2 separate regions of the Homo sapiens genome follow, and region 2 is linked to region 1. The links come from fine-mapping of genetic effects on gene expression. A gene starts in region 1. The other region holds a variant in brackets. All regions are shown on one strand. Distances are from middle to middle.

The links. PIP is the estimated chance that this variant, and not a neighbour inherited with it, causes the effect.
Region 2: its variant is fine-mapped to the expression of PRKCZ in whole blood (TOPMed, PIP 0.98).

The regions. Positions count from the first base shown.
Region 1 is chr1:2,047,352-2,052,705 of GRCh38, reverse strand. PRKCZ (protein kinase C zeta) reads right to left here and starts at 2,295. Exons shown (of 18, transcript NM_002744.6): 1 at 2,005-2,295. The coding sequence starts at 2,075. PRKCZ-DT (PRKCZ divergent transcript) reads left to right here and starts at 2,636. Exons shown (of 3, transcript NR_135509.1): 1 at 2,636-2,838; 2 at 3,040-3,108; 3 at 3,238-3,505. It overlaps LOC105378590 (a long non-coding RNA gene), which reads left to right and starts at 5,259. Exons shown (of 4, transcript XR_007065357.1): 1 at 5,259-5,354. RefSeq lists a silencer at 2,108-2,717 and an enhancer at 4,653-5,354.
Region 2 is chr1:2,109,959-2,115,312 of GRCh38, reverse strand. All of the region lies in intron 4 of PRKCZ (protein kinase C zeta), which reads right to left. Among named protein-coding and RNA genes, the nearest start is that of PRKCZ, 62 kb to the right of the region's middle. RefSeq lists an enhancer at 2,766-2,815. The variant G/A (reference allele first, on the strand shown) is at 2,768.

The DNA of each region.
Region 1 (5,354 bases):
AGTGTCCCACCCCACAGCCAGTCCCCTCAGAGAGGCACCGGGTGCCCAGAGGGACGAGGAGCCAGAACGGGGAGAAGGGTACTTCACACTCTGCAGCAGAGAGGAGGAGGACCTGGGAGGGGAGAGAGGAGAGAAGGAATGGTAGGAGCAGGGAAGAGCCAGAGGGGAGACGTGCCCTAGAAGGGGGAGGAAGGTGAAGGAAGAGGTGTGGCAGGGAAGGGAGAGAGGGGAGAGCGGGAAGAGGAGGGAAAACAACAGGGAAGGAGGGAGGAAGAGGAAGGGGTGGGGAGAGAGGGGAGAGAGTCCGGGAAGGGAGGGAAGAGGAAGGGGTGGGAGCCTGGTCTCTCCAGCCTGGGAAACCAGAGTCACCGGGTGGAATTACACCCGCCCCACCACCAAAGTGCTCCCAGGGGCCAAAGCAAGGCAGAGGGAGGACGGGGCGGCCCAGAACTCCAGTGGCATTGCCTCCGAGCCTTGGTCCCAGGAATTGGACGCCGGAATGCAGGAGGGTCTGGGCCCCTGCAGCCCCTCGGGTGTGGACCTCCCTCTCGCAGGACTCCCCTGAGCTCCGCACCATCACCTGTTGCCCAGTGTGGTGGCTCCAGAATGGCAAGGAGACAGGAAGCCCAGGTCCCTGGACAAGTCCAATAGCCAGAACGTCAACCATACCAAGTTTTAACCTGCTGACCTCCAGGCCAAAAGACATGGCTGCCCTACCTCTTCAGGTAGGGCTGGACGGTCAGTCCCCCAGAAATCCCTTTCTTCTGGTTCTGGCACCAAACCCGGGCCACTGCACCCCGAAGGTTCCAGGTGCTTGCCACAGGGGAGCTGCAGAGGCCCCAACCTTCCCAAAGAAGAGACAATTGAGCCTCCTCAACAAACCCGGGGCCAAGCAGCCCCAGATGGCTGACCCGAGACCCCAAGACAAGGTTCGCAGGAAGCTGAACCCGCTCAGACTCGCAGGGCACCATAGAGACCCCCGGGGCACTGTCCTGAGAGGACGTGGCCCGGGGAAGTTGTCACCCGCCTAACCCTGCCGGCCGTCCCTGCCTCTGGGGCTCAGGTTGCCCACGCTGTAGCTGAGGACGCACCGGGGCAGGAGCAGCTTTTCGAGATCCCAAGGACCAGCCAGTGCAAGTCCGGAGCCCGCATTCTGCTCCCCTCCCTCTCTGCAGCAGCAGCCACCCTCGCGGGAGCGGAGGTCCCAGTTCGGGGCTCCTGGAGACGCGCACAGGTGGAAGAACAAACCCACGGGTCCTCCCCTCCCCACCGCCCACACTTCGGGGGGCAGCGACCCCTCCGCTGTGCCTGTGAGCCCGGCCACCTGGTGCAGCCCCCGCCACCCCCAGCAGCGCTGCCCCGAGGCGGCGGCCAAGAGTCCAGGACCCCTCCGCTCCAGCACCTGACCGCGCCCCCTCCCACAGCCAGGCAAGGGCCTCCGGGGGGCGGGTGCGACGCAAACCCCAGGGTCAGTCTCGGCCCCACCGTCTCCTCCAGAAACCCCTGTCCCCGCCCGACCGCCCCGAGCCCTGCCGGGGGCTGCATTGGAGCCACAGCGCCCGCGCCCCGGGTCTCCGGATTTTGGCTAAAGCGAGACCCCCGACCGGGTAAACGTGGAGAACGTTTAGGAAACGCTGATTTTAAGAAACCCGCCAGGAGTTTTCACAACTTGATGAAAACTTTCAGTCCTTACAGGTTTGCGGCCGGAACGTCCCCGCCCAACTTTCCAGCGAAAACGTCTACCACAATGACCGGGCCGAGGAGCTCGCGGCGCGGGGCCGACCCCAGGGAAACCCGGTCCCGGGGAAGGAGCCCGCGCTGTCCACGACGTGTCCGCGGGTGACGCTCACGGGCGGGGACCGAGGACCTCCCGCGACAGCCCCGGGCCCGCAGCGACCTCGCCGCCCCTTCCCTCTCTCCCTCTCGCGCAGGAGCCCCGACGGCTGAGCCCTCCCCGCCCTCCCTGCCTCACCCGCGCCGCTCCCCGCCCTCTCCGCCGCTCACCCCCCGTAATGCGCCTTGAGGCGGACGCGGCCGCCGCTCCCTTCCATCTTGGGGCCGGTCCTGCTGGGCATGGCGCGCTCCCCCCGCCGCCGTCAGCGCTGCGCCCCGGGAGCTCCGGCCATGGCGCGGGGCGGGGGCTCCAGGTGGGGCCGCGGCGGAACGCGGAAGGCAGCGCTCAGGACCGACGGCGCCGACCCGGTCAACTCCGCGGAACTCCGGCGGCGCGCGGGGCGGGAGCGGGGGGCGCGCGGGGCGGGACCGTCCGGCGGGGGCGGGGGGCGGTGTCCGAACATGGCGGACCGAGGTGGAGCCAGCGGCCAATCCGCGGGGCGGGCGGTCCCGGGGCGGGCGGTGGCACCTGCGGCCAATGAGGGCGAGGCGGGGCCGCCACCTGGGCCAATCCTCGGGGGACACCCGGCCGCGGCCCAATGGCGAGGCGCGGGCGGGGCTACCTGTCGGGCGGGGCTACCTGTTGGGCGGGGCGCGGCGCACCTGCGCCAATGGGACCGCGCGCGGCGCGGCTCTGCCCGGCAACCGGAGGGGCCCCGGCCTCTGGGACGGAGCGGCGCCCCCGGGAACTCGCTGGAAACGCGAGTTCTCGGCCTTCGCCCAGACCCTCCGAATCGAAACTCCTGCGGCGCGCGCTGCCAGCCCGAGGGCCCCGCCGTCCAGGGGTCCCCTGACATCTCACACTTGCGGACTGAAGCTGCGAGGAGCGGAGAACCCGGCCAGGGTCACGGACGGGAGCGTCCGGACTCGGGTTCTCTGGGCCCCAGCCCCCACTCCGCCCCCAGCGAATCCAAGGTCCCCTGTAGGGAAGGGCCGTCCACACTCGTGAGTGCAACCGCTCACTTCGCCCAGGTCAAGGACGCGGCATTGGCCCGAGTCGCCCATGACCTTCATTTCTGAAGCCACAGCCTCTCGGGCCTTACTCGAGGGGCTTGATCTGGACAATCGCCCTCCAGGCCCCTCCACCGCCGCCCAGCTCCCTGCCTCCTGGGCTCCTCCCCTGAAAATACGGTTTTCCCTGATCAGCCCATCCCTTACTGGCTGCATCCACTGAAGCCCAGACCTGCTGCCTGCAGGACCTCACCCAGGCACCAGGTGGACACCCAGACCCAGTTCCTGGCCTCGGCCCCTCTCCCCTGAGAGTGGACCTGCTCAGGCCACGCCCTCACACCCCTCACCCAGACACAGCCACCAGGACTTCAGCCACGTGCTTTCATCCCGCAGGTCGTGCCTGGCGCCTCCTTGATGCCAGGCCCTGGGGAGACCTGTGGCCACAGAACCCATGTTCTCCCTGGAGATGGACAGGAGGCCCCTCTCCTACGCAGAAGCTGTCGTTTTTTCTTCTTAAACACCGTTTGCCCCTCCCTCCACCCACCGAGCCATCTCTGCCCCTCTCTACAGCAAAGCTTCCGCCAAGCCGGCCCTGCTCCCTGTCTACCTCTCCTGCCACCACCCACTCACACGTTTTAAATACAAGCCGTCGGTTCTCAGACGTTTTCTCTTTTTTTCTTTCTTTTTCTTTTTTTTGAGATGGAGTTTCGCTCTTGCTGCCCAGGCTGAGTGCAATGGCATGATGTCGGCTCACTGCAACTTCTGCCTCCTGGGTTCAAACCATTCTCCTGCCTCAGTCTCCCAAGTAGCTGGGATTACAGGTGTCCACCACCATGCCCAGCTGATTTTTGTATTTTTAGTAGAGACGGGGTTTTTCCATATTGGCCAGGCTGGTCTCGAACTCCTGACCTCAGGTGATCCACCTGCCTTGGCTTCCCAAAGTGCTGGGATTACAGGCGTGAGCCACTGTGCCCGGCCTCAGACATTTTCTTAACTTGGCCTTTGGTATCAGACCCCTCCTGGGAAGGCTCACACATCCCTGGCCCCGGGTTCCAGCTCCCTAAATCTCCCATCCCTCGCCCTCCTGGTCTGCAGCTTTTAAAACTGTGGAGCCCCAGCCTCAGCCTTTGGCCCGCTTTGCATCCCCAGCTCAGATGGGCCCCCTGAGCTCCCAACCAACACTCACCCAGCCCCAGGCATCCTCCTAATGAGCCTCTCAGCTGACGTCTTCCCCCACTCCATCTTTCTGGGTCATCGAAGTCCCCCCAGTGGTTCCCATCACTCCTGGAGGGAAGGCCAGCTCCTCTGCCCCGGCCTCGAGGCCTCTTTGCTGCCCCGGCCTCCGTCTTTGCACGGCCACTCCCTCTTTGCACAGCCACTCCCTCTTCCAGGAGCACCTGCCTGCAGAGATCTGCTGGACTGGCACCCACACTTCCTTGAAGTCTCTAGCATACCTAATGCCCATTTCAGCAATCTACTCCTCACCCCCATCTCCATGGGGCAACCCCCTCTATCCCTCGCACAGGCACAAAGCCCCATGCCCATCAGCTGGGCATGAAGGGGGGCAGAGAGTAGAGGGTGAGGGGGCAGCCTGGCAGGGTACAGTGATGAGTGGGAACCTGCACCTGCAGCAGCCCTGGATTCAGGCACCCGTCGGCCCAGCTCCCCCACTCCAGGCCCCATGGCCAGGGCTGTGGCCTTGTCTGGAGTCTGGCCTGGCAACATGGCCTGGGCGCTTCCTGATGGGCAGGAAAGAGCAGGGTTTCACCTTAGTGGGGCGGTGCCTGGAAGGGGCCACTGGGCACCCACAGGACTTCCTGGCTGGCGTTCTGATCCAAGGAGGCAGCAAGGCCCGGTCCTTGATACCACTGCCCACAGCAGGCAGGACGGACCCTCGGTTGTGTCCTTCCCTGTCACTGGACATCTCTCCCTGGGCCTGCCCCACCCAAGGCCCCGGAGGACCCTTTCTAACCAAGGACGCCCCTGCTGGGTCAGGCCCTCGGCACTGGCCTCCCTGGGGAGATCTGTGCTGCCAGGCGGGAGCCTCCGTCCTGGAAGCCAGTCCCAGGGCCGTGGCAGTGCCCCAGTCCCAGCGAGGGAAGGTGGGGGGCGGGGCTCTATTCTCTCTGGGGTTGGGAGGGAGAGGGCAACGTCAGTGGATGGTCAACCCCAGTGTCAGACTTTGTTCAGCCCTGATGCCGCCGGTGGAGGGGGGGTCGGGACAGACACAGGTTCCGAAAGGCTCTAGCAGAGGACTGCGGGCACAGGGGCTGCCCAAAACGTCCCCAAAACCTCCCCCAGTACCTGCTCTGGCCTCCCCTCCAGGAGGCAGAGGTCTCCGCTAATGAGATCTGCAAAACAAAGGCCTGGGAGGCCCTGGACCCGCCTCTGGGCAGGCAGGGCAGGTCACAGGGAGGTTCCTAGGTCCTCTGCCCTGAGCCTGTGCCCCTGAGAGGGCCCTGAGGGCAGAGGGCGCTTCCTGAGACACGGATAGGCTCACTGGCTGGCGG
Region 2 (5,354 bases), 63 kb before region 1:
AAAAGCCGGGACCCCGGTGCCTCGCAAGATGAGGGTGGATACATAAGACGTGGAGAATTCAGCCAGCAGAGCAGCCCCGCAGTGGGGACGGACACGGCAGAACCGCACCCCACACCACGGGAAAGCCCCACACAGGGGCCCGACTGAGCGGCCACACCCAGGGTGGATGGCCCCGGATCCCAAGACAAAAGCTCGAAACAAGCAAAACTATCTGCAGGCACCAAGGCCGGGGACGGGTAGGTTACGCCTGGGGTCACCTCGGGGTGTGGGGGTGGCCCCGCGTCCAGAGGACAAGCTACACACGGATCAGCTATGTGACGCGGTGCAGTTTGCTTTGTAAAAACTCGTGGAGTTGAACGCTTCAGATTTCATGTTTTAGGGAGTTTTGTTTCAATTTTAAAAAGTCAAGAAAGAAAAAGAAATCAGAGAATGGAGGCACCCAGGCCGTAACATTCTTTCCATAAGAAAAGCTGAAACCCAACGGCAGGCGGCTCCACCTGCTGCATCTTAGCTTTTTCTTTTTCTTTTTCTTTTTTTTTTGAGACGGAGTCTCGCTCTGTCACCAGGCTGGAGTGCAGTGGCACGATCTCGGCCCACTGCCACCTCCACCTCCCGGGTTCAAGCGATTCTCCTGCCTCAGCCTCCCGAGCAGCTGGGACTACAGGTGTCCACCACCACACTCGGCTAATTTTTGTATTTTTAGTAGAGACTGGATTTCACCGTGTTAGCCAGGATGGTCTCAAACTCCTGACCTCGTGATCTACCCGCCTCGGCCTCCCAAAGTGCTGGGATTACAGGCGTGAGCCACTGCGCCCAGTCATCTTATCTTTTTCTTCAGCTTATTTTATTTGCTCTGTAAGCTTAACTTTTGTGAGCTGAACTCCAAAGTCAACCTGCTGTTTGATTATTTTTGTGACTTGTTTCAAATAAAACCTCTTCTAAGAATTAATGTCCACCATATTCCTTTTTTGTCCAACAAAATAAGTCATCTCTTCTGTTTCAAATGTTCCTTCCCTCATTGGACACTGTGCTTGGGCTACCTGTATTAACACAGATCCCTGGAGAGCACGTTCTCAACACACAAGACGAACCTGCCCTGCATCCGGGGTCCCTCCTTCCACGTCCTCCCAGGCCACGACGGAGCGTCCTCCTGGAGAAAAGCTGGGGTGGGAGGGTGGGGGGGTGCAGCCCTCTGCTGTTTTTATCTCCTGAGCATTCCGAACGCTTCCACAAACTTACGCAGCCGGCCATACCCTCACCCACGCGCCACACGCACCACACACACAACATGGCGCCCGCTCTCCCTCCCCCAGAGCCAGCCCCGTGGAGCCCTTGACCGGTGGCACCCAATCCCCAGGGCATGGATGCTGTGGGCTGGGCCCCCGCCCTCTCTACACTCCCACACCATCATCTCCCCTCCCTCAAACACATGGGCACTGCGGTCCCTTCTCCCTGCCCCAACACCAGTGCCTTGACCTCCCTCCTCCTTGGCCACACCACCCACCTGCCATCCCTGGAGTCACCCCCACAAGGACTGGACCACAGCCTCTGCCCCATGAGTCCTCTGTGCCCCAACTCTCACCCACCCCCCAGCATTCTCCACGGCAGCTAGGCTGCCATTGGCTCTCAGAGATACCACTACTTCGTGCATCATGAGGAAAGACAAAAAATGTTGCCAACTCAACTGGGACACAGACAGGCAGGCTGCACCCCCTTCCAGGATGTCAGGATAAGAGAAGTCCATCCCAGCTCACTCAAGGCCCTGGTCGCCTCTGACAAAGGGGCTATCGGATGCTGCCTCTGTGCCACTTCCGAGTTTCTGGCTGACACCCTGGTCCTCACCTGCTGGCTTCCACCTGCCCTGGGTCAGGAGCGAACTCGGGCAGAAAATATGAATGCCCCGGATGAGCCCCCCTCAAAGCCCAAGATGGGGAGACATCAGGTAGAAGCAGCAGGAGCACATACTTGGCGATCCACAGGCAGCCCACCGAAGAGAACGTCACAGTCACCACAAATCACTGCTGAAGGCGAGACCAGTGGGGAGGAAACGGGGCGGCTGCCTTTTTAAACCTTACGTTAAAACCTTACATTAAAAAACATACTCATGAATCGAGGTACTCGCTAGTCAGAACTGAGACCCTGGAGGGATCCCCCGGGGCCCTGACTGGTGCTGCAGGCCCTCAGGCAGTGCCCGGCTCCAGAGCAGGAGAGGCAGGCACCTGGGTGACCCGGCCAGCCTCGGCCAGCAGTGGGCAGGCCCTAGCCAAGCCACTGTCTTTCCTTCAGCTGATGACTGTAAGTCACAAATGTAAAGAAAATGGGGCCGGGCGCAGTGGCTCAAGCCTGTAATCCCAGCACTTTGGGAGGCCAAGGCAGGCGGATCGCCTGAGGTCAGGAGTTCGAGACCAGCCTGGCCAACACGGTGAAACCCCGCCTCTACCAAATATAGAAAAAAAATAGCCAGACATGGTGGCGAGCTCCTGTAGTCCCAGCTATTTGGGAGGCTGAGGCAGGAAAATCCCTTGAACCCAGGAGGTGGAGGTTACAGTGAGCCGAGATCACGCCACTGCACTCCAGCCTGGGCGACAAGAGCAAGACTCTGTCTCCAAAAAAAAAAAAAACCAACCAACCAACCAAACAAACAAAAAAACGGAACTGCAACTCCAGCAAGTTTCAAGGACCTTTTTCTTCTTCCTTTTTTGAGTACTGTGATGATTACAGGCATCCAGAGAAGGAGGAGGAAACGTGTGGGGTCCCATTCACCTCC[G/A]CTCCAAGCGGCGGCTGCACCCCACAGTCCCCCATGCCGGGACCTCAGCATGGGCCTCTGGGTTGGACTGAGGGGTCCTCAGCATGAAGCTGGCTGGTGTTCACGGGGCAGGGGTTCCAGGCTGACCCTCCGCCTGAGGCTCGTTCATCCTCATTGCAATGGAGCACGTCAGAGGTTCGCGGGCCGCCTCGCCGGCTGCTTCGGACAGAAGGTGCACTGTGCCGTTTGAGGCCTCTGTGTCACTGGGGCAGGGGCCTCAGCTTAACCCACATAAGGATCATGTCTACACATAAACGTCAAACACTGTGTTTTATGAGCAATTTAGGGGATTCTAAGCAAAGCCTGTTTTTTGCCTTCTAGGCAGACTCCTGGAACCCGCACCCTGTAACCCAGGCAGAGGTGAAGGAAGGAGAGGGGAAAAGCTCTGCTGGAAACCACATTCTGCAGCGATTTTCACTCAGTTTGGGAAACACTTGGAGTTTGGGAGACGTTTTACAGCAGATTCATGAAAATGACTTGTCCCGAGGAAACATCGCCTCGAAGACGACTAAGGTGAAAGGAAGGTGCCAACTGGGAGGCTGGCACACGGCACTGCCCTTCCCGGGTCTTCTGAAAGGAAGCTGTGGTCCCTTCCCCGACACCCGTCTCTCCCACATGGGTGAACATCCAGAAGCCTGGTGGTGGATGGACGGTCGGTCAGGAGGCCGGACCCACAAGTGCCTACGTACCTCCCTCCTGCACGTCCTGAGGCTGTAGGTCAAAGGGCAAGAAACAAGGGTGGAGCCAGGATGTGGGTGCTGTCCACACCAGGACAGAGGGTCTGGCTGGTGGGGAGTCGAGGGTGCGGGCTGGAGGGTGAGGGTCCTGAGTCCAGGCCGGCAGCAGCCCCGCCAGTTCCTCATCCAGACCAGCCCAGACTGGAGAACTCCAACAATGGCAGGCGGGGCGCAGCAGGCAGGGGACAGCTCCCAATGCCAGGTGACCCGGCAAGCAGGCTCCCTTCCTCCCCCTGCCACACACTCTTCCCTAACCCCAGCCCCTCCCTGTCCGCCTCTTGAGTCCTGACAACCAGCTTCTCTGGAGACACCCAGACCACCAAGGTGCACCCCTTGTTGCGTGATCCCCTCTGGCCCCCTCATCCTGCCCATCACTTCTCGGAGGCTCAGCCCCAGGCCTCCATGTTGCACCCCCACCCCGCCTGTCCCTGTCAACCTGGGACCCTCCCTGGCTGTGCCCCAGACCTTCACAGTTGCCGTGGGGTTCCCTCCCCGTCCCCTAAGTGGTCCAAAGACACCTTCTCTGCCTCTTTCTTTTCCCACAGCACCCTCCTGAGGGCTCAGTAACCTCAGCTCAGCCCGAGTTAGGCCCAACACGCACAGCCAGCCCCACAGCTCCCAGCACCCACCTCGGCTCCTCCTCGCCTTCCCTGCCGCAATACCCATGGGTGCAGCAGGCCCAACTTTCCTCCTGCCTTCCATCCTGAGCCCTTACCTCGCCATGCTGTGTGAACTGGCCTGGGTCCCGCCCTCAGGGCGGGCACGGGGTAGGGTGGGGGAGCTCAGGATGGCAGGCCTCGCACCCGAGGGGAAGGCCGCAGGGACGTGTGCAAGCTTCCAGTCCCTCACCTTCCGGCTCGGTCTCTCAGGAACTACACCGTCCACCAGCCCCACCCTGGCCCCACAGAGTCCACTGTCACCAGCCCCTACAGGGACTCTACTGTCCACCAGCCCTGCCCCCCACAGGGACTCCACTGTCACCAGCCCCACCCCAGCCCCCTTCACTCCGCTGCTCCCAGCTCTCTCAGGACCCAGCCCACCCCACCCACACTCACAGGGTTTCAGGCAGAGGCCCACAGTCACCAAGGCCGATCCAAACCCCCATTCCCTGGGCCAGCGATGGTGTGAGGGTGGACAAGTGACCCAAGGGTGTCGAGGGCCCAGTGGACTCAGGGGACTCCAGGGACTTGGGGGACCTTCGTACCAGAGGAGTCTCTGTTTCCCTCTTCGGGCCCAGTGGACTCAATGGACTTGGGGGACTCCGGAGATTCAGGGGACCCTGGTACCAGAGGAGTCTCTGTTTCCCCCATGAAGCTGCGACCCAGGAGCCACGGGGCTGCCACGGGACCAGGAGCCCCCTGACCGGGGATGAAGCCTGAACGGAGGAAGCCAGTGCCGGAGCTGCAGAGAGGGAAGAAAGGTCCTGCCTGCTCTGATCACGCCCGGGGCCCCCGCTGGAGGCAGATTCAGCCCTGGCCGTTCTGTTTCTCACCTCTGGGATCCTCTTGGTTGGGACCCATTGGTTTTAGGTCCTTGGCTGCCCCCAGGGAGGGCCCCGGATTCAGCCCTGGCCGTTCTGTGTCTCACCTCTGGGATCCTCTTGGTTGGGACCCATTGGTTTTAGGTCCTTGGCTGCCCCCAGGGAGGGCCCCGGATTCAGCCCTGGCCGTTCTGTGTCTCACCTCTGGGATCCTCTTGGTTGGGACCCATTGGTTTTAGGTCCTTGGCTGCCCCCAGGGAGGGCCCCGATGAAATGGCCCATGCTGGCCGGCTCCTCCGCTTGCCCAGACTGGGAGACACTGGACATCCCT